Linked DNA regions of Homo sapiens. The protein of the gene in region 3 interacts with the protein of the main gene of each other region in a pairwise test. Each region holds a gene or a part of one and is shown on either strand. Other genes may lie near its edges. The genes, in order: PDE4DIP, ZUP1, ARHGAP45 and RINT1.

What was found.
Region 1: the proteins of ARHGAP45 (region 3) and PDE4DIP interact in binary tests that used the Homo sapiens proteins (3 or more experiments, as listed by UniProt).
Region 2: the proteins of ARHGAP45 (region 3) and ZUP1 interact in binary tests that used the Homo sapiens proteins (3 or more experiments, as listed by UniProt).
Region 4: the proteins of ARHGAP45 (region 3) and RINT1 interact in binary tests that used the Homo sapiens proteins (3 or more experiments, as listed by UniProt).

What each region holds. Positions count from the first base shown.
Region 1 is NC_000001.11:149,001,409-149,008,431, forward strand, and holds part of PDE4DIP (myomegalin), read left to right. Parts: intron 1-182; coding exon 183-618; intron 619-1,441; coding exon 1,442-1,634; intron 1,635-2,202; coding exon 2,203-2,322; intron 2,323-3,500; coding exon 3,501-4,029; intron 4,030-5,792; coding exon 5,793-6,028; intron 6,029-7,023. UniProt on the Homo sapiens protein: Functions as an anchor sequestering components of the cAMP-dependent pathway to Golgi and/or centrosomes.
Region 2 is NC_000006.12:116,665,764-116,673,258, forward strand, and holds the start of ZUP1 (zinc finger-containing ubiquitin peptidase 1), read right to left. Parts: upstream 3,004-7,495; 5' UTR 2,803-3,003; exon of another isoform or gene 2,382-2,802; intron 1,445-2,381; 5' UTR 1,430-1,444; coding exon 871-1,429; intron 1-870. UniProt on the Homo sapiens protein: Deubiquitinase with endodeubiquitinase activity that specifically interacts with and cleaves 'Lys-63'-linked long polyubiquitin chains. Shows only weak activity against 'Lys-11' and 'Lys-48'-linked chains.
Region 3 is NC_000019.10:1,077,160-1,084,182, reverse strand, and holds part of ARHGAP45 (rho GTPase-activating protein 45 isoform 1 precursor), read right to left. Parts: intron 6,788-7,023; exon of another isoform or gene 6,417-6,787; coding exon of another isoform or gene 6,327-6,416; coding exon 6,138-6,326; intron 4,481-6,137; coding exon 4,343-4,480; intron 4,256-4,342; coding exon 4,065-4,255; intron 3,929-4,064; coding exon 3,804-3,928; coding exon of another isoform or gene 3,720-3,803; coding exon 3,636-3,719; intron 3,502-3,635; coding exon 3,397-3,501; intron 3,292-3,396; coding exon 3,119-3,291; intron 2,634-3,118; coding exon 2,445-2,633; intron 2,360-2,444; coding exon 2,222-2,359; intron 1,344-2,221; coding exon 1,117-1,343; intron 1,041-1,116; coding exon 830-1,040; intron 1-829. UniProt on the Homo sapiens protein: Contains a GTPase activator for the Rho-type GTPases (RhoGAP) domain that would be able to negatively regulate the actin cytoskeleton as well as cell spreading.
Region 4 is NC_000007.14:105,549,187-105,556,209, reverse strand, and holds part of RINT1 (RAD50-interacting protein 1), read right to left. Parts: intron 6,156-7,023; coding exon 6,045-6,155; intron 5,950-6,044; coding exon 5,724-5,949; intron 4,641-5,723; coding exon 4,503-4,640; intron 1,183-4,502; coding exon 983-1,182; intron 1-982. UniProt on the Homo sapiens protein: Involved in regulation of membrane traffic between the Golgi and the endoplasmic reticulum (ER); the function is proposed to depend on its association in the NRZ complex which is believed to play a role in SNARE assembly at the ER.

The DNA.
Region 1 (7,023 bases), on a different chromosome or scaffold from region 3:
TCTTACTTTTCCTGAGCCTTGGCTTTCTTGTATATAAAATTAGGGGGCTGTGGTAGGTCTCAGGTTGCTTCATGCTCTGGGGTAAGTCTGAGTTAATTGCGGGCTGAGATGTTGGTAAGAGGTAGTATTAGGAACTGTTGTGAGGACCAGACCTAGCCCTCAATTAAGTGTGTTTCCTGCAGGAACACCATGCTGAGCCTTTGCCTTGAGAATGCGGAGCTGAAAGAGCAGATGGGAGAAGCAATGTCTGATGGATGGGAGATCGAGGAAGACAAGGAGAAGGGCGAGGTGATGGTTGAGACTGTGGTAACCAAAGAGGGTCTGAGTGAGAGTAGCCTTCAGGCTGAGTTCAGAAAGCTCCAGGGAAAACTGAAGAATGCCCACAATATCATCAACCTCCTCAAAGAACAACTTGTGCTGAGTAGCAAGGAAGGGAATAGTAAACTTACTCCAGAGCTCCTTGTGCATCTGACCAGCACCATTGAAAGAATAAACACAGAACTGGTTGGTTCCCCTGGGAAGCACCAACACCAAGAGGAGGGGAATGTGACTGTGAGGCCTTTCCCCAGACCCCAGAGCCTTGACCTTGGGGCTACCTTCACAGTGGATGCCCACCAAGTAAGTGTGGGCTTAGATTGAGTGAAAAACAATTGGAGAAGGGCTTGAGATGACAGTGTTTACCTTAAAACATTCTCCCATATGAATCAGGAGGTACCAAGAGAAGGGTCTCTTTGTACCACAAACAATAATAGTAATATTCTGCCTACATTCAGCCTTTAGAAAGGCTTTTATAACATAAATATTTCTTGAGTACTTAATTTTTCAGATAACACACTAGGCATTGGCATGGGGCAATAAAACCAATGGCTGCCCCTGAGATACTTAATATTGTCGGGAAAGATGGCACACAAACAGGTAATTTTAACAGGATGTGGTAACTGCTGTAACATAGGGATGCATCAGGTTATGAGGCAGCCCAGACAAGTGGTATGTAATGACATCCCTTATCACTGCCATTTTTTTGTCACAGCTCATCACAGGTGTCTGTTCCTGGGCTTCAGATGGGTTACTGGGATCCTCTTTAGGGAAGGAGCCATGCTGAAGATTCAGTGAAATGGAGAATACAGGGATTCTGAGAGAATCAATGGGACAGAATGTGAGGGGAGATGAGTGGTCTCTTTTTGACCACTGAGAAAACATTTCCTGAGAGCTCCTCTGTAGACTTGATTGGTGCTGTGCTGTGTGCTGTGGATACAGATATGAAGAAAACATTATCCCAGCGCTCCAGGAGCTCCATCTGGAAAGCAAGTCACTGCCAAATGGCATGAGAAGTGCTGTGACAGACTTGAGTAAAGTCCACAGGGTTCAGAAGGGGCGGTGGTCGTCACTGCATGGGGGTGACCTCAGACTGTCCTGATCCCTGTATTGGCCCCTTTCACAGTTGGATAACCAGTCCCAGCCTCGTGACCCTGGGCCTCAGTCAGCGTTTAGCCTACCAGGGTCCACCCAGCACCTGCGCTCCCAGCTGTCACAATGCAAACAACGCTATCAAGATCTCCAGGAGAAGCTGCTGCTATCAGAAGCCACTGTCTTTGCTCAGGCTAACGAGCTGGAGAAATACAGAGTTATGCTTAGTAAGTAACTATGACTTACTAGTAAAGAAAACTAGCCTATATGTCTTATAAGTTCTGTATGTTCTATACCGACATAACGTGGTTATTGAGCACACGAAGTGTGGCTAGTGCAACTTGGACATTTGGTTTTATTTAATTTTAGTTGATGTAGTATAAAGTGGCCATATGTGGCTGCTAACTACCTTATTGGACAGTACAGGTCTAGGGTCTTGGGACTCTAAATTAGTTCAGCTCCATTCAACATTTATTGAACCCCTGCGGATAAAGCACTTGCCAGCTTCAATGGGGCTGCTAGAGATGATAGTGTACAATCCCTGACTTACAGATATCTGGTCCCAACTAAAGCCTGGGTTATCTGAAGGGGAGATAATGGCAAATGCAGGCTCCTCCTTTGGAAAGAAATTCTGCTTCCTGGAGCTGGTGATCTCTTCTCCCACCAGTTCAGAGAAGCTTCTCTCCCACTGTGGATCTGCCTTCCGTGCCTCAAAAGGTTAGGGTATGTGCCATTGAGGCTGAGGGCATATGTGGGAAATTCAGACATTCTGTAACACCTGCTTCTCTTCCCAAGCAGGTGAATCCTTGGTGAAGCAGGACAGCAAGCAGATCCAGGTGGACCTCCAGGACCTGGGCTATGAGACTTGTGGCCGAAGCGAGAATGAGGCTGAACGGGAGGAAACCACCAGTCCTGGTAAGAGCACAGGGTGTGGGGCTCACCCCTCCCTGGAGTCAGCTGTCACATTTGGATGCTGTTGGCCAATTCCACACCTGACAAGTATTGGGGAAGAGGAGGACAGGAGGTTAATAGGAGAAATCTTACCCAAAATGAGGCTGAGTATAAGTTTGAATTTCTACAATTAGTTTTTGGCATACTGCTAATAACAATAATAATATAAAATTCTATCCAACTGATTATTATAGAAATACTAAGGCCTACTTAGAGACCAGATAAGGTTTTAGAAACATGCAAGCCATAAATTAAAAATAATTTTGTTTTGCATTATAAAAAGACTACAACTATAGGGCCACCCACCACATTGAAAACCAGAAGAGAAGAAAAACACAATCTCTCTCATTCTTGAGGCAGTGTAGTGTGGCAGTTAAGAGACAAGATCCTGGGGCCAGACTGGTTGGTTCAAATCCCAGTTTGAAAACTTTCCTATGTCCCAGTTTCTTCATGTGTTAAAATAGTAATAAAGGAACTACCTACCCCATCAGGTACTAAGGTCAATTAAATGAGTAAATTCTTATAAAATGCTTTAGAACAGTGCCTGGCATCTGGTAAAATGCCATGGATTAGTTCTCATTCTGACTACCACTGCCCTAATACACTGATGTTAACATGCTGATATATTTATTTGAAGCCTTATTTTCCTATGCCTATTTTTCATACAGTTGTAACCCAATAAACTTTTAAATTATAGTAAAATTTAAAGAGCATTAAACTTTCAGCATGCAGTAATAGCTTGTCCTACATTCTTGTGGCCATCCTAAATAGATAAGGCCATGTTAATGTCTTAAGAAACACCAGTGTGTGTGGAATGAACACAGGACATTGGAGGATTTGAATTCTGGCTCTGCCATGTGCTAGTTTGAGTGATCTAGAACAAGCTAGTTTACCACCTCTCTTTAAGTTTTGGTTTCCCAGTCAGTAAAATAGAAAGTGATGAAACCTAACTTGTAGGTATAAGGAAGATAAGAAATATTGTATTTGAATGCCTAGTACAGTGTCAGGGTTGAATAAAGTACTACTTCAACTTTTTCCCTAGTAATTATTGTCCTCATGACCAAACCTGCCTCCTCTCAAAGGCAGTGGCCACAACAGCACATCCAACTTTTATTTAGGAAGACATCTTTGTCTTTTTTCAGAGTGTGAGGAGCACAACAGCCTCAAGGAAATGGTCCTGATGGAGGGGCTGTGCTCTGAGCAGGGACGCCGGGGCTCAACACTGGCTAGTTCCTCTGAGAGGAAGCCCTTGGAGAACCAGCTAGGGAAGCAGGAAGAGTTCCGGGTATATGGAAAGTCAGAAAACATCTTGGTCCTACGAAAGGACATCAAAGATCTGAAGGCCCAGCTGCAGAATGCCAACAAGGTCATTCAAAACCTCAAGAGCCGGGTCCGGTCCCTCTCAGTTACAAGTGATTATTCGTCTAGTCTGGAAAGACCCCGGAAGCTGAGAGCTGTTGGCACCTTGGAGGGGTCTTCACCTCATAGTGTCCCTGATGAGGATGAGGGGTGGCTGTCTGATGGCACTGGGGCTTTCTACTCTCCAGGGCTTCAGGCCAAAAAGGACCTGGAGAGTCTCATCCAGAGAGTATCCCAGCTGGAGGCCCAGCTCCCAAAAAATGGACTAGAAGAGAAGCTGGCTGAGGAGCTGAGATCAGCCTCGTGGCCTGGGTAAGGATGGCACTGTTTGGGTACTTTCTTGATTGAAAATGTGTAAGTTCATGCTTGGCGTAGGGTAGCTCAGGCAGTTGGAAGAAAGAACATGTCTGGGTATTCACAGGGACACTGATTTAAATGGTAGATACAGGTCTGCAGAAAAGACAGGTAGGCAACCAGGAGGGCATAGGATGATGTTCCAGTATCTGGGAGATACCGGGTCTCAGGGATTTCCTCTTAGGGATATATTAGTAAAGATGGTATAGTATAGTAGTAATACTGGAATCAGACTACCTACCTCTGGTGCTTACTACCCATGCAACCTTCTTAACCTTTCTGAGCCTTTGTCCTTACCTATTAAATGAGGATGATAAGAGAACCCATCTCAAAGGGTGGATATTAGGTTTAAATGAATTAATACAACTGCTGACCAGGCGTGGTGGCTCATGCCTGTAATCCCAGCACTTTGGGAGGCCAAGGCAGGTAGAACACCTGAGGTCAGGTGTTCGAGACCAGCCTACCCAACACGGTGAAACCCCATCTCTACTAAAAATACAAAGATTAGCTGGGCATGGTGGTGCACACCTGTAATCCCAGCTATTCGGGAGGCTGAGGCAGGAGAATCGCTTGAACCTGGCAGGTGGAGGTTGCAGTGAGCCGAGATGGCACCACTGCACTCCAGCCTGGGTGACAGAGCAAGAGTCTGTCTCGGAAAAAAAAAAAAAAGAATTAATACAAGTGCTTAGAATAGTGCCTAGCATATGTTAAGCTCTCAATGCTATTTGCCATAGTTATAAGTGTTATTGATACTTAGTGTTGAAAACACAGACATTCATCTTGGTGTGTCCTGGTTATCTATTGCTAAGTAATAACCACTCTAAAACTTAGTGACTTCAAACAACACTTTATTATGCTTCATGGTTCTATGGTTTGACTGGGCTCAGCTGGGTGGTTCTCACTTAGGGTCTCTTGTTTTGGGTCCCATCAGTTGATGGTATGAGCGTTTAAATGATGGCCATCATTGCAAAATGTAGTCAGCCACAGTATCGTAACATAGAAGAAATTCAGGCATCAGGTGGTGGTTAAAACAGAAGGCATGAAAGGTTCTATCTAGACTTAGGATGAAATGATGCTAATTATTCATTGAGTAACTGCTGTGAATCTATGTGATACTGGTGCTGTAAGGGATGTAAAATGCAGAACTATGTTTATTCTCACAGACCTTATGATTTATCTAGGGACATATAATTAACACATGTATAACAGTTGAAGAACAGTGACATACTAAATTTTTTTTTGATACGGAGTCACTCTGTCATCCAGGCTGGAGTGCAGTGGTGCCGTCTTGGCTAACTACAACCTCCACCTCCTAGGTTCAAGCAATTCTCCTGCCTCAGCCTCCCGAGTAGCTGGGATTACAGGCATGTGCCACTATGCTCAGCTCATTTTTTTTGTATTTTTAGTAGAGGCAGGGTTTCACCATATTGGCGAGGCTGGTCTCAAACTCCTGACCTTGTGATCTGCCTGCCTTGGCCTCCCAAAGTGCTGGGATTACAGGCGTGAGCTACCACGCCCGGCCCGTACTAAGTTTTTTAATGCAATACTTTATCAGGGTAGAATTTACTCTTAAATACCTCCTATGGCTTATGTGCCAGAATTCAGCTTGGGGGAGTTCCTTAGAGATGTTCTCATAGAAATCTCTACAGAAGCCCCCATAACTCCATAAGTTAGCTTCCACTCTTTCCATACTTACACTTTCCTCTTCTGTCCTGCATTAGGAAATATGATTCCCTGATTCAGGATCAGGCCCGGGAACTGTCTTACCTACGGCAAAAAATACGAGAAGGGAGAGGTATTTGTTATCTTATCACCCGGCATGCAAAAGATACAGTAAAATCTTTTGAGGATCTCCTAAGGAGCAATGACATTGACTACTACCTGGGACAGAGCTTCCGGGAGCAACTCGCCCAGGGAAGCCAGCTGACAGAGAGGCTCACCAGCAAACTCAGCACCAGTAAGTTGGCCACAGGGCTTTGGAATACTCTCAGTCACCCCCACAGTTCCAGCCCCTGGTGGCCACCACATCTCCACTGCAACTTTTTATCCTAAGGTCCTGTTTCTATTTCATTTCCTGGGGCTAATACAGGATCAAGACTGCTCAGTGGGGAGCATGGAGAGGAAAACACAGGGCTGGAGATGCCATGGTTACAACTATAGAAACTTCACCACTAATGGAATGTGACCTGTGGGGCAGGGGCAGCATCTCTCTGATGCTAAGAGGGAGTAGGGGACATGAGATGGAAGGGCTTTGTTATAGGAGGAAGAGCCCTGAACCAAGAACTACAAGACTCAAGCTCTGGCCTGGATGCTGCCACCAACTCGCTAAATGCCTTATCCTTGTGGTGTCTCCATTTATGGCATGGTAATGTGCATGCAGGTACTCCACATATGGATAAAGCGCCATGCTCTTTTATACATGGTTTAGGCACTGGCTGCAGTAGTTCAAGGGCTACATTGGTTATTATTGGGGTCTTCTACTCAGAATTTCCAGCGACTATCCAAGGGAGTAAAGTAGGATCAGACTTGGGAGCCACCCAGCCCACCACCTGGTGGCAGATGCAGAGGTGGGGCAGGGCTTCTTGTCATCTCCTCAGAGACCAGTGCAGGTTCTGCATGAAAGCTGTGGTGGGGCATATGCATTGGGGAGCTAGTCTGCAGCAGGACATGGAGGCTGGAGTGTCCCGCAGGGCAGCTGGGCAAGGGCCTCATGATTAATGGAACAAAAGACATTATAAATGTTTTACCCTGATTTAGGGCAGAGGAAGTCATCATGGTGACCGGCAGGTCAGGGACAGTGGGGTCACTTCTCTAGAGACACAAGCTGAGGTATCCCAGAATAACTGTTCTGGATGCACACATGAAATGCTCACTACTCTGTCTCCAGATAGGCTCCTGCATTTGTAATGCGGGAAGTGGGACCAGCCTAATTTCTTATCGTCTCTTTCTAAA
Region 2 (7,495 bases), on a different chromosome or scaffold from region 3:
TTTTTTTTGAAGAGACGAGCTTTTGCCACATTGCCCAGGATCGTCTCGAACTCCTGGACTCAAGGGATCTGCCCACCTCGGACTCTCAACTTGCTGGGATTACAGGCATGAGCCACAACACCTGGCTCCACAAATTCTTAAAGTTCAACAATAAGAAAAAGACATAAGATCCTAAATGTGTACACACCAACAATAGAGTCTCAAAATACATGAAACAAAACCTGACAGAGCTGAAAGGAAAAATAGATAAATTTACAATTATAATCAGGGATTTCAACAACCCCTTCTCAAAAATTGATAGAACTACTAGACAGTACTACTATAGAAAACAAGCAAGGATATAAATAATCTGAACATAAACAACAGGATCTAGTGACATACATATAACATTCCACCCAACAAAGCAGAATACACTTTTTTTTCCCAAGTATCCACAGAACATGACCAAGATAGCTCGTGTCTTGAGCCATAAAACAGGCCTCAACAAATTTAAAAGAACTGATATCACAGAGAGTTTGTTCTCCAATCATAACAGAATAATGGAGTCAAAATAGAACTCAATGCAAAGTCAGAGAGTCCAGGACAGTCCAGATGCTACTGGGTTAGTGACAATAAAAAGAATACCCTCTGGAAACTAGACAGAAAGTTCCAAAACTACTCTCAATGTAGCTGAAACATTTTATATCTGCATTAAAATTCTTTTCCATAATGTACTTTTATATTTCAGTAACAGCAAATGAAAAATGTTATAGACATAAAATGGATTTCAAAACACATCTGTAGTAAGCTGACTTACAAACCAACTTTTAAAATACCACATATTAAATTGAGGCTGTAAACTTATAATTTATAATGAAATGAAAACTTTACCTTCCAATGGAATGTCTAAAAGATTGGCATGCTTTGTTTTCACATGAGTTTCCATATCTTCACTGTGCTCCTCTATTTTTCCACAGAATGGACATTCAGGAGGACTGTATGTTGTTTCATAAACAGATCCTTTTATTTCGGTCAGGCTGGACTGTTTTTCCCTACTTTTCAGGAATTTTCTAGATTCAGTTAAGTTCTCTGAATAGAAGCCTTCATGTTTTAAAGTACTATCTTTAGTCAGGTTTTGAGCTGAATTTTTTGGATGATTAGATGCACAACCTGAAAGAATACTTGAATTAACTTCCATTCCACACTGTAGGGTGTTGTCTTTCTTGTTATCTGAAGTTCCATATTGTACTGTATTTATCCTCTCAAAGTTTCTTTCAAGTGTATTCTGCTCAAAATGAGCTGTTTCGATATGAAAACACATTTCATCATAATTCACACCTGACAACTTGCAAAATGGACATATAATTTCACTTTCCATGTGAACAATTAGGTGAGCTTTCATGTCTGGTTCTGAGGTTACTGTTTCACCACAAATATTACAGGAAAGCATGGTATTGACAAGTAGCTAGAAAAGAACATAACATTAGGTTTCAAAGATTTGAAGAAAAAATGTGTTTCATAAAATGATTTGAGACAATTACTTGGTCTTTAACGCTGGATTATTTTGATGAAGAAGTTTTCAATGTACTTACTGTTCCTCAAATACAAAAACTTATTTATAAATATCAACCAAAATTTCATTTATTTTTTTTTAAAAAAAGGCAATAATAATGAATACAAGTAATTTTAAAAATAAAATATTTCAAAAAATGTCTCTGGCCCAAGGTGGAGAAAAAATAACGTTTAAAAAATTGTCCAGGTAAGATAAATCAGGTAAGAAAAAAATGAAGAGAAGAAACCTATTTATCAACTGATATATCTAAATACTGAATACTGAAGCTGATTATATTGAGGAGGTAAATAAACACATCTTACAAGTAGAGTTTAACACTGTAAACTTAGAGTCTTACATGTATCAAGTGCTATTTAAGTGCTATTATTGTAATTTAAGTACTATTATTATCGCTCTACACATAAAGAAATTCTGGCTCAGACAGGTCACCACAAGCAGAAAAAGGTGGAAGCCAAAATGCCAACCCCGTCGTGCTCCACAGCCTGTACTCTCAGCCCCAAGAATAAAAGCAGAAGTGGTATAGTAGAAAAAAGCACTTATTCCAGAGTCAAGAGAACTGGGTAATAATTTCAGATTCATCATTTTGGGTAAGGAATCTCATCTCTCTGAGGTTCAGTCAAAGACTACTGTAAAATCCAAAGGTAGTTATTTTTGGATTTTATGGACAAATAAAGTACTGACTACTGACATAAAAGTGTTAAAAAAATAATTTTAAAAAAAGCAATCACTTCGCCACCACCTTCCTACTACAGGTCATCGTTCAGCTAAAGACTATTTAAAATCAAACAGGAAAAGTAATGACACTATCACTTCATTTAAATAAATTTACCTTTAAAATACCTCCCTACATTGTCCTTATTTTTTTCATTTCTCTCCAGACAAATGGATACAGTCTCTGATTTTAGAAGGCAGTTCTCCCGAGCCCCCAGTGGGATTAATGTCACACCCGGAGTTTCTTCTCTTCCGGTGGCTGGGACACGGTCAGACACAGAATGATGAACTTGGACATGGACTCAGATTAAGCGGGTAAGAGACAAGAGAGTACCCAGGTGCCTCAGAGGAAGCGAGTGAGAGGCATGAAGGACCCAGTGCCAAGCTAGGTACGTGGTGGGTGAGGTCAGAAGACCGCAAGGCCGAGTCTCCCAAACGTTCCGCGCCAAAGGCACAAGCCAGGCACACGAAACTAGCAGGCACTAACTGGGTCAAAGCTTTGGGCCTGGGGAATAAGGGAGGGGACCATCAATTCTTACCGGCCCAGAGGCCAGCAGCTGCCACACTGAGCTCCGCTAGGCTTCCCCTTTGGGCCTCGCTGGCAGACGAGTGCGTGCGCGGCGTCCAGTACCTCTCCTGGCCTGATGACTGAGGCCAGGCCTTCCCAATACGCAGAGTTTCACAGTTAACCGAGGAAAGAATTAGGAACTTCCAACACCTTGGCCCTCAGTACCTCATTCAAAAGCACTTCCTTACTCCCACGGAAAAGAAGTAATCCCAGAATGCGCCGCTCCACGCCGGTCTCTATGCAGTGCATTCTGGGAGATGTAGTCTTTTTTTTTTTTTTTTTTTTTTGAGACGGAGTCTCGCTCTGCTGCCCAGGCTGGAGGGCAGTGCGCGATCTCGGCTCACTGCAAGCTCCGCCTCCCGGGTTCACGCCATTCTCCTGCCTCAGCCTCCCGAGTAGCTGGGACTACAGGCGCCCGCCACCATGCCTGGCTAATTTTTTGTATTTTTAGTAGAGACGGGGTTTCACCGTGTTAGCCAGGATGGTCTCGATCTCCTGAGAGATGTAGTCATTTTTGCATTCCTCCCATTTCCGAGTTTTTCCTTCTCCCATCGAGTTTCCTGCCACTCAATTGCTAGGAGAGAAAACCGGGCTCTGAGGTCATTCATACTTAATCTGAATGAGTTCACAGGGCAGGTCCTGGGGCAAATAGCAGTCTACACTAGGGCCTGCTGAGTAGCACTCTATTTTAGTATCAATAAAGGGTTTATAATGCTGCTAGGTATCAAGCTCCCAGCTATGCACCGAAGGTAAAGGATACCAGGTTCTTTCCTCAAGGTTACAAGATAACAAATATCTTGGTTTGTATGTATGTATGTATGTATATATATATATTTTTTGAGACGGAGTCTTGCTCTGTCGCCCAGGCTGGAGTGCAGTGGTGCCATCTCTGCTCACTGCAAGCTCCGCCTCCCGGGTTCACGCCATTCTCCTGCCTCAGCCTCCCAAGTAGCTGGGACTACAGGCGCCCGCCACCACGTCTGACTAATTTTTTGTATTTTTAGTAGAGATGGGGTTTCACCGTGTTATCCCGGATGGTCTCGATCTCCTGACCTCGTGATCCGCCCCCCTCGGCCTCCCAAAGTGCTGGGATTACAAGCGTGAGCCACCGTGCCCGGCCGTATGTATGTATTTTTAGAGAGGAGGACTCTTTCTGTCACCCAGGCCAGAGCACAGTGGCTAAAATAGCTCACCGCAGCCTCGAACTCCTGGCCTCAAATGATCCTCCCATCTCGGCCTCCCAAAGTGTGAGCCACCATGTTAGCCCAAAATCACAAATATCTTGTCATTCAGGCTTTATTTCATTCAACAAATATTTAAAGAGTGTCTATTAGAAAGGCGTTTTGCTTGCAACAGGAGCTGCAGCAGTAATCAAAATACACAAAATTCAGGATTTTTGAGGCTTACATGCTGGTGAGGTAGAGGAAATAAAAAGTAAATTAACTGATCATGATAAGTGCTATGAAGAAAATAAAACTGGATTGGCCAGGCTCAGTGGCTCACATATGTAATCCCAGCACTTTGGGAGGCCGAGGCGGGCAGATCATTTGAGGTCAGGAGTTCAAGACCAGCCTGGCCAACATGGTGAAAGCCCGTCTCTACTAGAAATACAAAAATTAGCTGGGCGTGGTGGCAGGTGCCTGTAATCCCAGCTACTCGGGAGGCTGAGGCAGGAGAATTGCTTGAACCCGGGAGGCGTAGGTTGCAGCGAGCTGAGATCGTGCCACTACACTCCAGCCTGAGTGACAGAGCAATAGATTTTTGAGACTGAGTCTCAAAAAAAAAAAAAAAAAAAGAAAGAAAGAAAGAAAAGAAAACTGGATTATAGAGATACGAATGTTTAGAAAAGGTCTTGATGAAGGGTTGAGTGTGCTGATGAACAAACCTTACACCAACAGGGGAAATAGCATTTCAGACAGATAAAATAACAAGAACGAAGGCCTAAGGCTGGAGCAAAAAGAACACTTTTTGACCAGAGCATAATGTGGTAAGGAGAAAAATGATTACAAGATGAGGTTAGGGTTGTAGACAGGGGCCAAATCATGTAGGACCTGGTAGAAAACTAGTGAGGTATTTAAATAGGAGGGTGATGTTATCTGATGATAAATAGTATGTTTTTAAAAATTGGCTAGGCGCGGTGGCTCACGCCTGTAATCCCAACACTTTGGGAGGCAGAGGCGGGCAGATCGCATGAGCCCAGGAATTCCAGACCAGCCTGGGCAACATGGAGAAACCCGTCTCAACCAAAAAAATACAAAAATTAGCTGGGCGTGGTGATGTGGCCTGTAATTCTAGCTACTCGGGAGACTGAGGTGGGAGGATCACCTGAGCCCCAGGAGGTTGAGGCTGCAGTGAGCCATAATGGCACCATTGCACTCCAATCTGGGCGACAGAATGAGAACCTGTCTCAAAAAAAAAAATCGTTCTGGAAATTTGTGGACAAACATGGAAGATTAAACATGTAAATTTATATTTCTCTGCCTCTCAAAATCTATTAAAATGATAGCAGGAAAATAAAAATAATACTACTAACAGCTAATGAGATTTTACAAAACTTTGAAAGCTAAAAAAAGATGAATGATTAATAACGAACTTAACTCAGAACCGATGTCAACAAAAACCAAGTCAAGTCATACTGTCTTGACTTGTATGGGTTTCTGCTTGCCCAGCACAGCAGCTGGGGTCTGCTTGCCCAGCACAGCACAGCCAAACACTGACACTGGGATAGCAGCAAGAGAAAGTTGAGGCATTTATTGTAGGGCACCAAGGAAGGAGAATTGAGTAGCTCATGCTTAAGACCTGAACTCCCACATTGCTTACAGGTAAGAGTTTTTAAAGGTGAGGAGGCAGAGGTTACAGGCGACGTCATAAATCAATACACGGAAGCTATACGTTGGTTTGATTTTAAAAGGCTGGACATCTTGAAGTGGTTCGGGGCACAGGTTACAGGTGGATTCAAAGATTTTCTGACGTTTGATTTGCTAAGGAGGCAAAGCTTTGTCTAAAAATTTGGGATCAGCAGAAAAGAATATTAGCTCTCGCTCAGGGGTGTGATCTCCTCCAGGCCCCTCAGGAAGAAATTCAGAACAAAGAACAGCGATCAGGATTTAGTCTTCAGTTTCCCATTATCAGGGGTCAAATCATGTTGGACAGTAGATCTGTTTGGTGGGGGATCTGGGTTTCTGGAAAACAACCCAGGGACATATGTTAAAATGTTATCTTAAGTTTCTATAGGGAATAAAACATCTCCTGACTTTTTTGGGCCAATGTTTTAAGCTACTATTACCTTTTTGTTTATCAAATTGCTCATTTATTTCTCAGCGCTAGCTAGGTTCCTGGAATTTTCCTTGAAGGAACTCAATATTTTCCTTTATTTCCATGCTTGGGGGTTGCCCACGGGCCCCTAAGTAGGGTCCCTACTCCATCTTAATACACTCCTCCTTCCCAGAAATCTGAAAATTCCAGAAATTAAACACAAGATACTTCTAAAAATGATGGTGACATTTGGAACTAAATAAAGGATCATTTTACTGAAAGTCTGAATAAGGAACAGTTAGAACTCCAACTCTAGATTTTCTCCATCACCAGTGTGATGGTTAATTTCTCCTGAAACATTATTTCTTATTATTTCCCAGGAAGCTCCCGCCAAATGAGGGAAGAAGCAAAGAAAGTGGAAGGTATGGGGCCAGGCATGGTGGCTCACACCTGTAATCCTACACTTTGGGAAGCCGAGGCAGACAGATTGCTTGAGCTCAGGAGTTTGAGACCAGCCTGGGCAATATGGTGAAACCCCGTCACTACCAACTTGACTGAATTGAGGGATGCCTAGATGGCTGGTGAAGCATTGTTTCTAGCTGTATCTGTGAGGGTGTTTCCAGAGGAGATTGACCTGTGAGTCAGTGGACTGAGAGAGGAAGACCTACCCTCAGTGTGGCAAGCACCATACAGTCAGCTGAGGGCTAGGCTGGGGCAAACAGGAAAGAGAGGGAATTCTCTCTCTTTGCTCTCTCCCTTCTGGAACAAGACACCTTTTTCCTTCCTGCTTTTGGACATCAGATTGCACCATATTCATCTTTTAGACACTGGGATTCGCACGAGTGGCTTCCCAGGAACTCTTGGGCTTTTAGCCTCAGAGTGGGGGCCAAACCCTCTGCTTCCCTGGTTCTGAGGCTGCTGGGACTGAGCCACATTACCAGTTTCTCTGGTGCTCTAGCTTGCAAGATGGCCTATTGTGGGACTTCCACCTCTGTGATCATGTGTCAATTCCCTAATAAATTGCCTCTCGTATATAGTATTGGTTATGTCTCTCTGAAGAACTCTAATACAGCTAGGTTGCCATGAGACTCCTCTTTCCCTTCCAGATAGAAGACTACAGATTTAGTTCATGAAGAAAACGAACCAAAAAAACCAGCTATGAACCCTATCCTGGGGGTTCAAAGGCTTGACCCTATCCTTAGGGTAAAGGCACTGGACTGAAAATGGGAAATAGGGAAGGCTAAATACTAAATTATGAACCTCTTGCTCCTTTTCCCCCATCACATCTTGATATGTGATTTCTGCCTCCAAGGCAGGAGGTTGGAAAATTCCTCCCCAGAGAAATCAATTGTCCCAAGAGAAAGACCTAACAGATGTCAACTTTTAGGAAGTTATCCAATGATACAGCC
Region 3 (7,023 bases):
AAATTAACAAACCCACCCACACAGCCCGTAACAGCTACTGACACCCGCTGTTGCCCAGGCGGTCTGTCCTCAGCCAAGAGCAAACCCGAGAAACCGCAGCCCCTAAACACCCAGGGAAGATGGATTGAAAGAATACGAGACGCCGCGTGCAGTGGCTCACACCTGTAATCCCAGCACTTCAGGAGGCCAAGGGGGGTGCGGATCACTTGAGGTCAGCAGTTCGAGACCAGCCTGGCCAACAAAGTGAAACCCCATCTCTGTTAAAAATACAAAAATTAGCCGGGTGTGGTGGCCGGCGCCTGTAGTCCCAGCTACGCGGGAGACTGAGGCAGGAGAATCGCTTGAACCTGGGAAGCGGAGGTTGTGGTGGGCTGAGATCGCCCCATTGCACTTCAGCCTGGGCAGCAGGAGCGAAACTACAACTCCCAGAAAAGAAAATCTGAAGCGGGGAATTGACCTCGCGGCGGAGTGCAGTGGCAGCTCGGGCAGGCTGTGGACACCGGGCCAGCGTGGAGCTTGTGGCTGCAGGCAGCACCGGGATGGGAAACGGGGAAGGAAGCTGGGGGTGAAGGGTGAGGCCCAAGGCCAGCCCCAAGGGAGAGTGGAGGGGCGGCCGCAGAGCCTTTGCACCTCTGCCAGATTCAATGCAGACCTCGCTGAGTTTTTTGCATAAAAGACACAAAAAGACAGTGGCCTCCCGAACAGCCCTGTCCAAACCAAATTATCTCCCTGTGGTTCCTTGGGCTTCATCCGACAACGACTGTCCCCAGCAGCGCCCCCTGCTCCCCAAGCCCCGAGTGGCCAGCCCCGGTCAGGCCCACACCCTCACCTGGCCCCCGGGGGTCTCCTCCGGCTCCTCCTCGAAGACCAGGCCGTAGTGGACGATGAGAGTCTCGATGACGCGGGCCTGATGGGGATAATCCACCAGGGAGGAGAGGGACACGGTGGCCTCGGTGGGCCGTGGCCGAAGCAGCGTGGGCCCGAACACGATGCCCAGGTTCCCGGGGGTCATCTTGTTGTCCTGCTCCACCTCCACGATCCTGCGGGGTGGGCAGGGGCCAGGTGCTGAGCGGCTCCCGGGACCCCGCGCCCTCCACTCCATATGCCGGGACTCACCTGCGTAGGTGACGCAGCAGGTACTGCAGCGAGGCCCGGTTCTCAGGCGGCAGGTCCCGCAGGAGCTCCCGCAGCCGACCTGCCAGGGCCACCGCCACTGCCTCGCTCTCCGAGCCGTCCTGCCGGCCCCGGGACGCCGCCTTGGCCTCGGCCTCTGCCTTCAGGCTGTCCTTGGCCAGCCCTACGAGCTCGTGGTAGAGGCGGAAGGAGATGAGCGGCTCGGGAAGCTGCGCAGAGTCAAGGGTCAGCAGGTGTTGGTGGGCCTGGCCCAGCCCCCACGTGTGCCTGCCACGCCCCCAGCCTCAGCCCCACCCCCACAGAGCACTGGCCACACCCCACCGAGCTCGGGTTCCACCCAGAGCGGCGTCAGTCCCCTTTCCCAGCCCAGCGTGAGCCCTGCCCCTCCTACCCGGGCCACGCCCGCAGCTCCACTCCCTTTCTCGCTCTGGCCACGCGCGCCCCGCCCTGCAGGTACCCTAACGAGCTCCGGCTCCACTCAGCATAGTCTGACCCCTTCCCAACCACCTGCGAAGTGCTGGTCCCACTCCCATCCCAGCCCAGCTCCGCCCTTCCCCAGACATGACCACGCCCCTAGCCCCAGTCCCGCCCTTCCCCGGGGATGACCACGCCCCTGGCCCCAGCCTCGCCCCACCAAGCCCAGGCCCCACCGCCAGCCCCGCACTTGTCTAGCCTCAGCCCCGCCCCTAGCCTCATACGGGTCCCTGCCAAGCGCTGAACACGCCCATCTTGCTCTGGCCACGCCCCACCGAGCCCCGGCCCCGGCCCCGCCCCCGCACAGCGTCAGGTGTGCCTCTGCCGTGGCCACACCCCTGCCACGTGCTGACCAAGCCCCACCCCGCCCCTCCTGTCCCTGTCCGTGCCTCGGCGCAGAACTGGCCCCGCCTCGCTCCTACCGTGACCACGCCCCCAGCCTCAGCCCTGCCCTGCCAGGCACTGTCCCGCCCACCCTGTCCTCCCCAGGCCCCCGCTTGCGCCAGTCCTGCTCCAGCTCAGTCCTGCTCCAGCTCCCGGACCCCCACCCCGCCTCCTCCTGCCTGGCTACGCCCCTTCCAGGCTCTGCCTGGCCACCACCGGTGGGTCTCACCTGACGCAGGTAGAGCTTGAGGACGTTGCTGATGTCGTGGGGCGAGGCCTGCGACAGCTCGACCAGCTCCTTGCCGTTCTCGAAGGCCTGGCACAGCTTCTCCACGCGTGTCTTTACCCCATTGACCCGGTAGATGCCCTGCGGGAGCCCGGGGGTGGGGAGGCCCATCAGCCTCGGCCCACTCCCGCCTCCTCGCTGTGAGCCGCTTCCTCCCCCGCCTCACCTTGGTGCGCAGCGCCCGCCGCTCGATCTCGCAGACGCACTTCTTGACGATGAAGGGCACGCCGTCGGGGGCGCTGCGGGCCGCGTGGCTGAAGTCCTGGCCGAACAGCTGCAGGCGGCCTTGCAGCTTCTTGTGCCCGCACTGTATGGCCAGCGTCTCCAGACATTTCTTGTGGCAGGCCAGGCAGCACTGGGGGCGGCCAGAGTGAGTGAGCCCAGCCCCGGGGCGCCCAGCTCAGCGCAGCCCCCAGCGGCTCCACCCCACCTCCCCGGGGCGCTCACAGCCCCCACACGGCAGCTTCTGCAAACACAAGCTGGACAGTGGCTCGTGGCTTCCACCCCAGGGGTGATCCCGCCTGCCCTGTGGCCTCCTCTCCTTCCCGCCCCTTGGTTTTCTGGACACAGCTCCAGGGCCTTTGCCCTCCAGGTCTTCTGGCCACAGCCCCAGGACTCTTCACCCTCCAGGTCTGCCCCCTGCCTCGCTGCCTCAGAGAGCCAACCCTGCTCCCCAGAACTAAAAGAGCCCACCCCACCCCCTCCGTTCGCTTCCTTCCAAAGGCGTCCGACTGCTCCCTGCTCTGGGCCGGACATTCCTGAGGGCACACAGGCCGGCGGTGCTGGGCACCCCAAAGGCTCCCGAAGGCTCCCAGCTGTCCGTCGGGGCGTCCCACTCACCTCTTCACACTCAGCACCCTGGAAGTAGACGTAGCTGTTGCACTCGCGGCACTTGGCGGGCGTGCGGAGCTTCCGGAGCCGGTGAGTACGGGCCGCCTTGGACAGCCCCTCGTGGCGGAACGGTCCACTGGGCACGGCCACCGGCAGCTCGGGGGTCATGCCGTTGAGGTCAGCTGCGGGCAGCACAGGCAGCCGGTGTCACCAAGGCAGCTCAGGGCCAGGCCCATGGACTGTGTCCAAACCCCCCTCTCTCTCCAGCCCCGTCAGGGGACCCTCACCCTGCTCAAAGGCTGAAGCCCCGGCTCCACCGTCTGGGTCCACCAGCTCCTCCGTGGACGACATGGTACCACTGGATGACGTCCGCTCGAACTTCTTAAAGTCCCCTGGGCGGGAATCAGGACTGTTCAGACTCCCCCAGCCAGGGGGGCCCCCTCCATCACCCCGGTGGGTGATGAAACCCTGAGGCTCAGGAGAGGAGGCAGCTCCACACCCCAGCCCGCCAGAGAGCCTCCCTCACCTGCGCCAGGGCCGGGGTCCAGCCCACTGTCCGAGTCTGAGATCGAGAGCGGCCATGACTTGTGAACCTGGTGTCCTCGCCCGGCTGGAGAAAGAGGCGTCTCTGGTGAAGGGCCAGGGTGGGTCGCAGGGAGCCAGCGTCCGCCCCTGGGCCCCGCCGGACACTCACCCCTGTGGTCCTTGGCAGGTGTGCCCTCAGTGCACCCGCCTTCTTCTGGGGGGCTCCCGGCAGCCTCCGGCCGCGCCACATCACTCACGTTGAAGCTGCTCTTCCGGGCACGCATGACGGGGGACCTAGTGGAAGAAACCGGGAAAAGGAGGGGAGGTGATGGGGGGCAAGACAGCTTCATCTTCATGCCCCCGACAGAGGGAAGCCCGGCTCCCAGGCAGGGCCTTGTGCGCCGGGGACAGGGCAGCTGGGTGGCGGTACCAGGCGTTGGCGGAGACGTGGGGCTCAAAGTCGTAGTGCACATCGGGCTCCTGGTCCCGCTGCAGCTGGCGCACGTGGGAGGCGTACTGCTGGCCTGGGTCATACAGCTTGCTGCTCTCACACAGCATCTGGAAGTGCACGGGCAGCGGCGCCGTCTGCATATGCATCATCTGGTAGTAGGAGATCGTGGCCTGCGGGCGGCACCGGAGAGCGGAGGGGTCAGGAGGAGGCCGCCCGGTCCACCATCCCCGCCCGGGCGGCCGGAGCACCCCACGCACCGACTTGATGGTTTGGTCGCTCTGCCGGATGACCTCCTGGATCTGCCGCAGCGCCGTCACCTTGGTATCCTCCAGCTCCTGCTTCTGCGTCTTCGCGTCGGCCACGCAGGTGCGGTAGGTGGCCATAGCTTCCTCCGCCTGCGGTGGGGGCGGGGCGCACAGAGAGAGGCCTCAGCCCGGGGTGCAGGACTCAGACAGAAACCTCAGGGAGGCGGGGCTGACGCCTGTCATCCCAGCGCCTCGGGAGGCCACAGTGGGAGACTTGCTTGAGGCCAGGAGTTCGAGACCAGCCTGAGCAACATGGTGAGACCCTCCCCATCTTTTTTTTTTTTTTTTTGAGATGGAGTCTTGCTCTGTAGGCCAGGCTGGAGTGCAGTGGTACGATCTCAGCTCACTGCAACCTCCACCTACCGGGTTCAAGCAATTCTGCCTCAGCCTCCCAAGTAACGGATTACAGGTGCCCCCCACCCACCATACCCGGTTAATTTTTTGTAATTTTAGTAGAGATACAGGGGTTTCACCATGTTGCCCAGGCTGGTTTCGAACTCCTGGCCTCATATGATCTGCCCGTCTCAGCCTCCCAAAGGGCTGGGATTACAGGTGTGAGCCACCACACTCAGCCTGAGACCCCCATCTTTATAAAGAATTTTTTTTTTTTTTTGAGACAGAGTCTCGTTCTGTCGCCCAGGCTGGAGTGCAGTGGCGCGATCTCGGCTCACTGCAAGCTCCACCTCCCGGGTTCATGCCATTTTCCTGCCTCAGCCTCCCGAGTAGCTGGGACTACAGGCGCCCACCACTACGCCCAGCTAATTTTTTGTATTTTTAGTAGAGACGGGGTTTCACCCTGTTAGCCAGGATGGTCTTGATCTCCTGACCTTGTGATCCACCTGCCTCGGCCTCCCAAAGTGCTGGGATTACAGGCGTGAGCCACTGCGCCCGGCCAAGAATTTTTTTAAATTAGCTGGGTGTGGCGGCACACGCCTGTGGTCCCAGCTACTCTAGAGGCTGAGGCGAGAAGATTGCTTGAGCCCAGGAGGTAGAGGCTGCAGTGAGCCATGATCACGTCACTGCACTCCAGCCTGGGTGACAGAACAAGACACTGTCTCAAAAATAATAATAATTTAAAAATCGGGGCCGGGCGCGGTGGCTCATGCCTGTAATCCCAGCACTTTGGGAGGCCGAAGTGGGTGGATCATGAGGTCAGGAGTTTGAGACCAACCTGGCCAAGATGGTGAAACTCTGTGTCTACTAAAAATACAAAAAAATTAGCTGGGCTTGGTGGCAGGGTGGCTGAGGCAGAGAACTGTGTGAACCTGGGAGGCGGAGGTTGCAGTGAGATCTCACCACTGCACTCCAGCCTGGGCAACAGAATGAGACTCTGTCTCCAAAAAACAAATTGGCCGGGCGCAGTGGCTCATGCCTATAATCCCAGCACTTTGGGAGGCCGAGGTGGACGGATCACGAGGTCAGGAGATCGAGACCATCCTGGCTAACACAGTGAAACCCCGTCTCTACTAAAAATACAAAAAATTAGCCAGGCGTGGTGGCGGGCGCCTGTAGTCCCAGCTACTCGGGAGGCTGAGGCAGGAGAATGGCGTGAACCCGGGAGGCGGAGCTTGCAGTGAGCCGAGACTGTGCCACTGCACTCCAGCCTGGGCGACAGAGCAAGACTCCGTCTCAAAAACAAACAAAAAAACAAAAAAACAAAAACAAAGGTCTGGAGGTAGTAAATGTCACACCAAGCATTGGATCTCCTCCTCCAGGGACCTCCAGCCCTGCCTCCACCCGCCCTCACCTTGTTCTTGGCCTCCTCCTCCAGCCGCCGCCGCTTGTCCAGGGTCTTGGTGGCCGTGCTGCCTGCTCCCGGCGCGCTGCCAGCCTGCTCCTCCTCCGCCTTGGCCACGAGGAAGCGAGCCTTGTCGTGGTCCTCGCAGCGCTGCACGTAACCCTGCTTGGCCTTGCGCAGGTTGGACTCCGCCTCTTGCTGTGGGTGTGGGAGCCAGGAGGCCAGTTCCAACCCTATCCTCGGATGGGACTCAGTCTCCCCAGCTCCTCCTTTCCTCCCCACCCCCATCTCTCTCAGCAAGGCCCCATGGCCCAGCTGGGCATGCAGAGGACCCTGCACAACAATCGGCAGCGGAAAAACAGGAGGAGTGGCCGGGCGCGGTGGCTCACGTCTGTAATCCCAGCACTTTGGGAGGCCGAGGCAGGTGGATCACTTGAGGTCAGGAGTTTGAGACCAGCCTGGCCAACATAGTGAAACCCCGTATCTACCCAAAATTTAAAACAATTAGCCGGGCATTGTGGTGCACGCTTGTAATCCCAGCTACTCGGGAGGCTGAGGCACTAGAATCGCGAACAGCTTGAACCCAGGAGGCGAAGGTTGCAGTGAGCCAAGATTGCATGCACCACTGCACTCCAGCCTGGGCAACAGAGATTCCAGCTCAAAAAAAAAAAAAAAAAAAAGAACGGGAGGAGGCACCCGTAACAGGACACTCGGAGAAATGGGTGTCCTGTGTGCCCACTCTGCAGCCCGGGAAGCTGAGGTGCAGCCAAGCTCTGCACAGAGGCTCACACGGCAGCCTCTGCAGACACGCACACCAGCCCCCACGGGAGCGTCTCCGGGCTCTTTTGCTTTCACTTCCCTCCTCACAGACGAGAACAGAGAAGCCGCCCAGGCA
Region 4 (7,023 bases), on a different chromosome or scaffold from region 3:
CTGTAATCCCAGCTACTCAGGAGGCTGAGGCAGGATAATCCCTTGAACCCAGGAGACAGAGGTTGCAGTGAGCCGAGATCGCACCATTGCACTCCAGCCCGGGCAACAAGAGCGAAACTCTGTCACAAAAAAAAAAAAAAGAAGTTGAGTGATAGCCACGCCACAGAAGTTCATTTTCCTATTCTATTTACTCTTGCATATATTTGAAAATTTGATACATGAAATGTTAGTTTCTTATTTTTATTTTTTGTAGAGACAGGGTCTCACTATGTTGCACAGCTGGTCATGAATTTCTGGGCTCCAGTGATCCTCCCACCTCAGCCTCCCAAGTAGCTCGGACTACAGGCATATGCCACCACACCTGGCTAATTTTATTTTATTTTTTATTCTTTGGAGAAATGGGGTCTCCCTATGTTGCCCAGGTTGGTCTCCAACTCCTGGGCTCAAGCAATTCTCCCATCTCAGCCTCCTAAAGTGCTGGGATTAAGAGCATGAGCCACTGCACCCAGCCAAATAGATTTTTAATGTATGAAACAATTAAAACTTTAAATGTTTCTTCCTATTTTCATGACTCTTTATAATCTGTCATGTTTTGAAGACATTCAAGAGGTATTAAACATTATTCTTTTATTTTCCTTAAAGTCCTGGATTGCTTTTGACATCATTATTTAATCTTAGCTCTTCCTGTGATTGCAATTACCATACATGAATATTTCCAAGTATGGTTCACTCTATAAACAACTATTTCATGAAAGGCTTGCTTGCCTTTCCAATGATTAAATACATTAAAATATCAGGACTATTTAACTACTTGAGATTTGATTGAGAAAAATGTGTATTTTAATTACACCTTTTAATTATGGCACTATGGTTCTGTCTAGCATGTTTATTTTTGCTTGCAATAGATTCAACATTTTGAAAAGTATTAATAAAATAGTTCGAACTAGTATATATTACTTAATATAAAAGCATATTAACTCACAACATTGTCAGCCCAATCTGCTAGTACTGTTGAGATGTAGTTCACAGCATTAAGAATTGCACAGTATCGAAAGCCAAGGGAAGCTCTAGTCTCTTCTTTCATCACTTGTGTTAATCGTATCCTAAAATCATCTACTAAGTCCTTCTGTAACTCCAGGAACTGAAGCTTTCGGGAAGCTGTGGGAAGATTTTTATACCTGTCTGTGGAAAAAGTTATTAAGACATATGAAGGTTTTGGTACCATCTATGATATAGTTATAAGTTTTCCCTACTGTCCTGCTTCAGTGCTTTTGTCAAAAATCAATTGACCAGTAGTCAAGAATGGATTTATTTCTGAGCTCTCTTAAGGATGTGAGTTTCAAAAGTATATACATTTGCCAAAACTCATTGAACAATACAAATAAGATCTGCACATTACACTGTATGTAAACTATACCTCAAGTTTTCAAAAAGGCAAATGAAAAAATTATACATAAAAATGACAGTTTTGGCCAGTCGTGGTGGCTCACGCCTGTAATCCCAGCACTTTGTGAGGCCAAGGCAGGTGGATCAACTGAGGTCAGGAGTTCAAGACTAGCCTGGCCAACATGGTGACACCTCATCTCTACCAAAACTACAAAAATTAGCCGGGCAGTAGTGGCGTGTGCCTGTAATCCCAGCTACTTGGGAGTCTGAGGCAGGAGAATTGCTTGAACCCGGGAGGTGGAGGTTGCAGTGAGCCAACATGGCACCACTGCTTTCCAGCCTAGGCAACAGAGTGAGACTCCATCTAACAAAAAAAAAAAAAGAAAGAAAAAAAAATGACAGTTTCTTCAACACAAATAAACAGCATTTTTTTAAAAAAGAAAGAACTTCAATAAATTAAAAGATACACATTTAAGAATTTACAGGCAGTTGGCCGGGCACGGTGGCTCACACCTGTAATCTCAGCACTTTGGGAGGCCGAGGTGGGTGGATCACGAGGTCAGGAGATCAAGACCATCCTGGCTAACACAGTGAAACCCTGTCTCTACTAGAAATACAAAAAAATTCGCCGGGCACAGTGGCTCACGCCTGTAATCCCAGCACTTTGGGAGGCTGAGGCGGGTGGATCACGAGGTCAGAAGATCAATACCATCCTGGCTAACACGGTGAAACCCCATCTCTACTAAAAATACAAAAAATTAGCCGAGTGTGGTGGCGGGTGCCTGTAGTCCCAGCTACTCGGGAGGCTGAGGCAGGAGAATGGCGTGAACCCGGGAGGCAGAGCTTGCGGTGAGCTGAGATGGCGCCACTGCACTCCAGCCTGGGCGACAGAGTGAGACTCCATCTCAAAAAAAAAAAAAAAAAAAAAAAAAAAAATTAGCTGGGTATGGTGACGGGTGCCTGTAGTTCCAGCTACTCAGGAGGCTGAGGTAGGAGAATGGTGTGAACCCAGGAGGTGGAGCTTGCAGTGAGCCGAGATTGCGCCACAGCACTCCAGCCTGGGCGACAGAGCGAGACTCTGTCTCAAAGAAAAAAAAAAAAGACAATTTACAGGCAGGCATGGTGGCTCACGCCTGTAATCCCAGCACTTTGGGAGGCCGAGGCAGGTGGATCACCTGAGGTCAGGAGTTCGAGACCAGTCTGGGCAATATGAAACCCCATCTCTAGTAGAGCCGCCACCATGCCTGGCTAATTTTTTTGTATTTTTAGTAGAGACGGGGTTTCACTGTGTTAGCCAGGATGGTCTCGATCTCCTGACCTCGTGACCTGCCCACCTCAGCCTCCCAAAGTGCTGGGATTACAGGTGTGAGCCACCGTGCCTGGCCAACTGCCTGTAAATTTTTGTATTTTTAGTAAAAATACAAAAAAAAATTAACCAGGCATGGTGGCAGGCATCTGTAATCCCAGCTACTCAGGAGGCTGAGGTAGGAGAATTGCTTGGACCCAGGAGGCGGAGGTTGCAGTAAGCCGAGATTGCGCCATTGCACTCCAGCCTGGGTGACAAGAGCGAAATTCTGTCTCAAAAAAAAGAATTTACAATTGACATGATGAGATGTCTGAAATTTTCTTTGAAATACTCCAGAAAAAAAAAATTGAGGAGTAAAATATAACAGAAAAGTGATAATTGCTTTAAACTTTGGCAATAGGTACCTGAGAGTTCATCATATTATCCTACTTTTGTGTATGTTTGAAAATTTTCTGAATAAAAAGTTTTTAAGAGACATGAATTTTCCTTAATTTTTTTGTCTTAGTATTTTTCATATTTTTCTTATAGTTAAAAATATGGAATGATGACTGGGCACGGTGGCTCATGCCTGTAATCCCAGCACTTTGGGAGGCCGAGGCAGGTGGATCACAAGGTCAGGAGTTCAAGACCAGCCTGGCTAAGATGGTGAAACCCCGTCTCTACTAAAAATTCAAAAATTAGCTGGGCGTGGCAGCAGGTGCCTATAATCCCAGCTACTTGGGAGGCGGAGGCAAAAGAATTGCTTGATCCTGGGCAGCAGAGGTTGCAGTGAGCCGAGATCATGCCACTGCACTCCAGCCTGGGTGACAGAGTGAGACTCCATCTCAAAAAAAAAAAAAAAAAAAAAAAAAGGAATTATTTACTGACTGGGCTGGAATGATACTTCTTCAGGTTACCAGACAAGCCTAAGAAACGGACAGGCTAGTGGTTGACGAAGGTGAAGAGGGCCAGGGATGGTGGCAATGAGGGTCCAGTGGCACCTGGACAACAAGCAGGCCCACAAGGGGGCAACGTGATTGGCTAAAGACCAACCAGGGCCAGAGGATGCTAGGCTACCCTCCAGCCAGAGAATCCCTGCACTGTAACAAAAGTTCCTATTACTACTCCAATCCTTAAAATTACTTCATTATTTTACTCTCTTCTGCAATCTTTGATAAATCAAGATCAAGACAATATTTAAAATATAGGCCAATCACCATTTACTGAAGACACCTAAAAAGCCCAATAGCAAGACAGTTTGGATAATAAAATTAAATTCCTATTTAATTGTTTTTGTGTAATTATTCAGGAAGTTTTCCTTCATGTATACCAATGTTTAAATCCTTAAATTATTAAAAACCCAAAAGTTAGAATATTGTGTTAGATTTCTACCAATATAGAAACTGAATTTGAAGATAACAACCATCATATAATATTAATTTGCTGAGCCACTTATTTATTGATTACTTTATTGACAGGGTCTCACTCTGTCACCAAGGCTGGACTGCAGTGGCGTGATCATGGCTCACTGCAACCTCTACCTCCCATGCTCAAAAAATCCTCCCACCTCAGCCTCCCAAGTAGCTGGGACTACAGGCACACACCACCACAACTGGCTAATTTCTGTATTTTTTCGGAAGAGAGGGCATTTCACCATGTACCCCAGGCTGTTCTCGAACTCCTGGGCTCAAGCAACCTGCCCGTCTCAGCCTCTCAAAGTGCTAGGATTACAGGCATGAGCCACTGCACCCAGCCTACTGAGCTACTTTAAAAACTACCACGTGAAAACAGTACTTTTAAAACAAAGTCATATCTTAAAAGACATACTTACCAGTTATAACCAAGAGTAGAGTCATAAAAGTTTCTGCACAATCTGGAACTTTCATTTCATCCACGTCAGTGATATCCTTATATTGCGATACCCAGGCAGCTTCTGAGGAAAGCATTGAGTCCATTTTTTGAAGAGCAACTGATAAGCAGACAAAACAATTATGTCAATTAAGTAGTTACAGTCGTTCCTAATTATTCAACTTGTAATTTTTTAGGAATGATGGCTTTTCTATAAAAAAGAAACAAACCTACAATATCCCACTGGTTGTACTAAATTTAACTTAATTAATGCTTTAAACAGGATACTTTACTCCCATCCCCAAATTCTGAAAATAGTTATGTTGACTAGATAAGCTACAGTAAAAAATATTCTATTGGCCAGGCACGGTGGCTCACACCAGTAATCCCAGCACTCCAGGAGGCCAAGGTGGGTGGATTGCTTGAGTCTAGGAGTTCACAACCAGCTTGGGCAAAACCCCAGGGAAACCCCATCTCTACAAAAAATACAAAAAGTAGCCAGGCATGGCTTGCATATACCTATACTCCCAGCTACTGGGGTGGCTGAGGCAGGAGGATCACCTGAGCCCCAGAGGTCGAGGCTGCAGTAAGCCATGATCGGCCCACTCCACTCTAGCCTCGGTGACAAAGTGAGACCCTATCTCAAAAATAAAAAAATAAAATATTCTGACACTTTGGGAGGCCAAGGCAGGTGGATTACTTGAAGTCAGGAGTTCCAGACCAGCCTGGCCAACATGTTGTAACCCTGTCACTCCTAAAAACAGAAAAATTAGCCAGGCGTGGTAGTGCGTGCCTGTAATCCTAACTACTCGGGAGGCTGAGACAGGAGAATCGCTTGAACGCAGGGGGTGGAGGTTGCAATGAGCTGAGATCAAACTACTGCACTTTAGCCTGGACAACAGAGCAAGAGTCTGTCCCAAAATAAATAAATAAAAATAAAATAAATTATATGATAAAATCTATAAAACAAACACCCCACTGGCTTGACTATTCCACTCTAGAAATATGTAGAGTGTAATTTCAGGAAAAATGGAAGTTTCATGTGAAGTAAAGAAAAGATTATCTCTGAAGGAAACAGAAAACCCTGAAAAGGAAATTTCAAATGGCTCTAGTTCCTATTTAGAACTGGAGAAGAAAAATATCAAAAATGTATACCCACAGAAACAGACATATCTCCCTACCATCTGGCCACATCAGCACTTACATTTTCTCTCCACCGTCAACCATCTCTGAAAACAGGTTTCCTCTGATAGAATATGCATACAACTAGCAAAAGTGCCAGGATAGCCATGAACACTGTGTAGCTCCCTTTCAAACAAGAGTACTTCATCCACCAAATGACAGAAGAGATTGTCATCATATAGCAGACAAGGAATATCAGTGGCTAACTTCTCAAGAACCAGCATCATAAGGCCCCGAGAAAATTCAAGCTAAAAAAATACACAAACATGAGGTATGTAAATAAAAAGTTATCCATGCACACATACAGTTCTAAAACAGAAACACTTATGACTGAGTCTCTTACCCTTGCGTTTACCAAAGAGCCTACTTTGTCTAATATTGGCTGAATCTTCTCATCCAGAAATTCAGTATGGTTTCCAATCCACATAAGTACTTGAGCCAAGTACCATTCTGGCTAAGGAAGGAGGAAAATAGTTTGAATTCTTAAGTCATTCCAATTAGAAAGTTACAATTACATGGTTCTATTTAATTGTATATGCACAACACTTATAAAAATTAGTTGAAAATTCCTGTATGTAAGAGCACAATTTCTACTCCAAATTTTAAACTCCTGCAAGGCTTAATAATCAAATGTTTGCTAATGTACTCCCAACAAATTTCAATAATATGACTTAAGTCAATAAACTCATAAATTTACAATGCCATATATATTTAAAACCTAGCACTTCAATAATATGTAAAATGATGAGTATTACAAAGAACTGATGGCCTATATTTTTTGAAATAGCATTTGAAAATAATTTTAATATTATTTTCTTATGGTTTTTATTTTCAAAAAGTAAATCAAGAAAAAAATTGCTGGCCAGGCGTGGCAGCTCATGCCTGTAATCCCAGCACTTTGGGAGGCCGAGGTGGGTGGATCAGCTGAGGTCAGAAGTTCAAGACCAGACTGGTCAACATGGTGAAACCCCGTCTCACCTAAATATACAAAAATTAGCTGGGCGTGGTGGTGGGCACCTGTAATCCCAGCTACTCAAGAGGCTGAGGCAGGAGAATCGCTTGAACGCGGGAGGCAGAGGTTGCAGTGAGCCGAGATCACACCATTGCGCTCCAGCCTGGGCAACAAGAGTGAAACTTCGTTCCAAAAAAAAAAAATTGCTAGTCTGCATTACAAAAACTACGCATGTCTTATACAGGTTTAAGAGCAGAAATACCAAGTACATGCCAGGCGCAGTGGCTCACTCCTGTAATCCCAGCACTTTGGGAGGCTAAGTCAGGTGGATCACCTGAGGTCAGGAGTTCCAGACCAGCCTGACCAATAT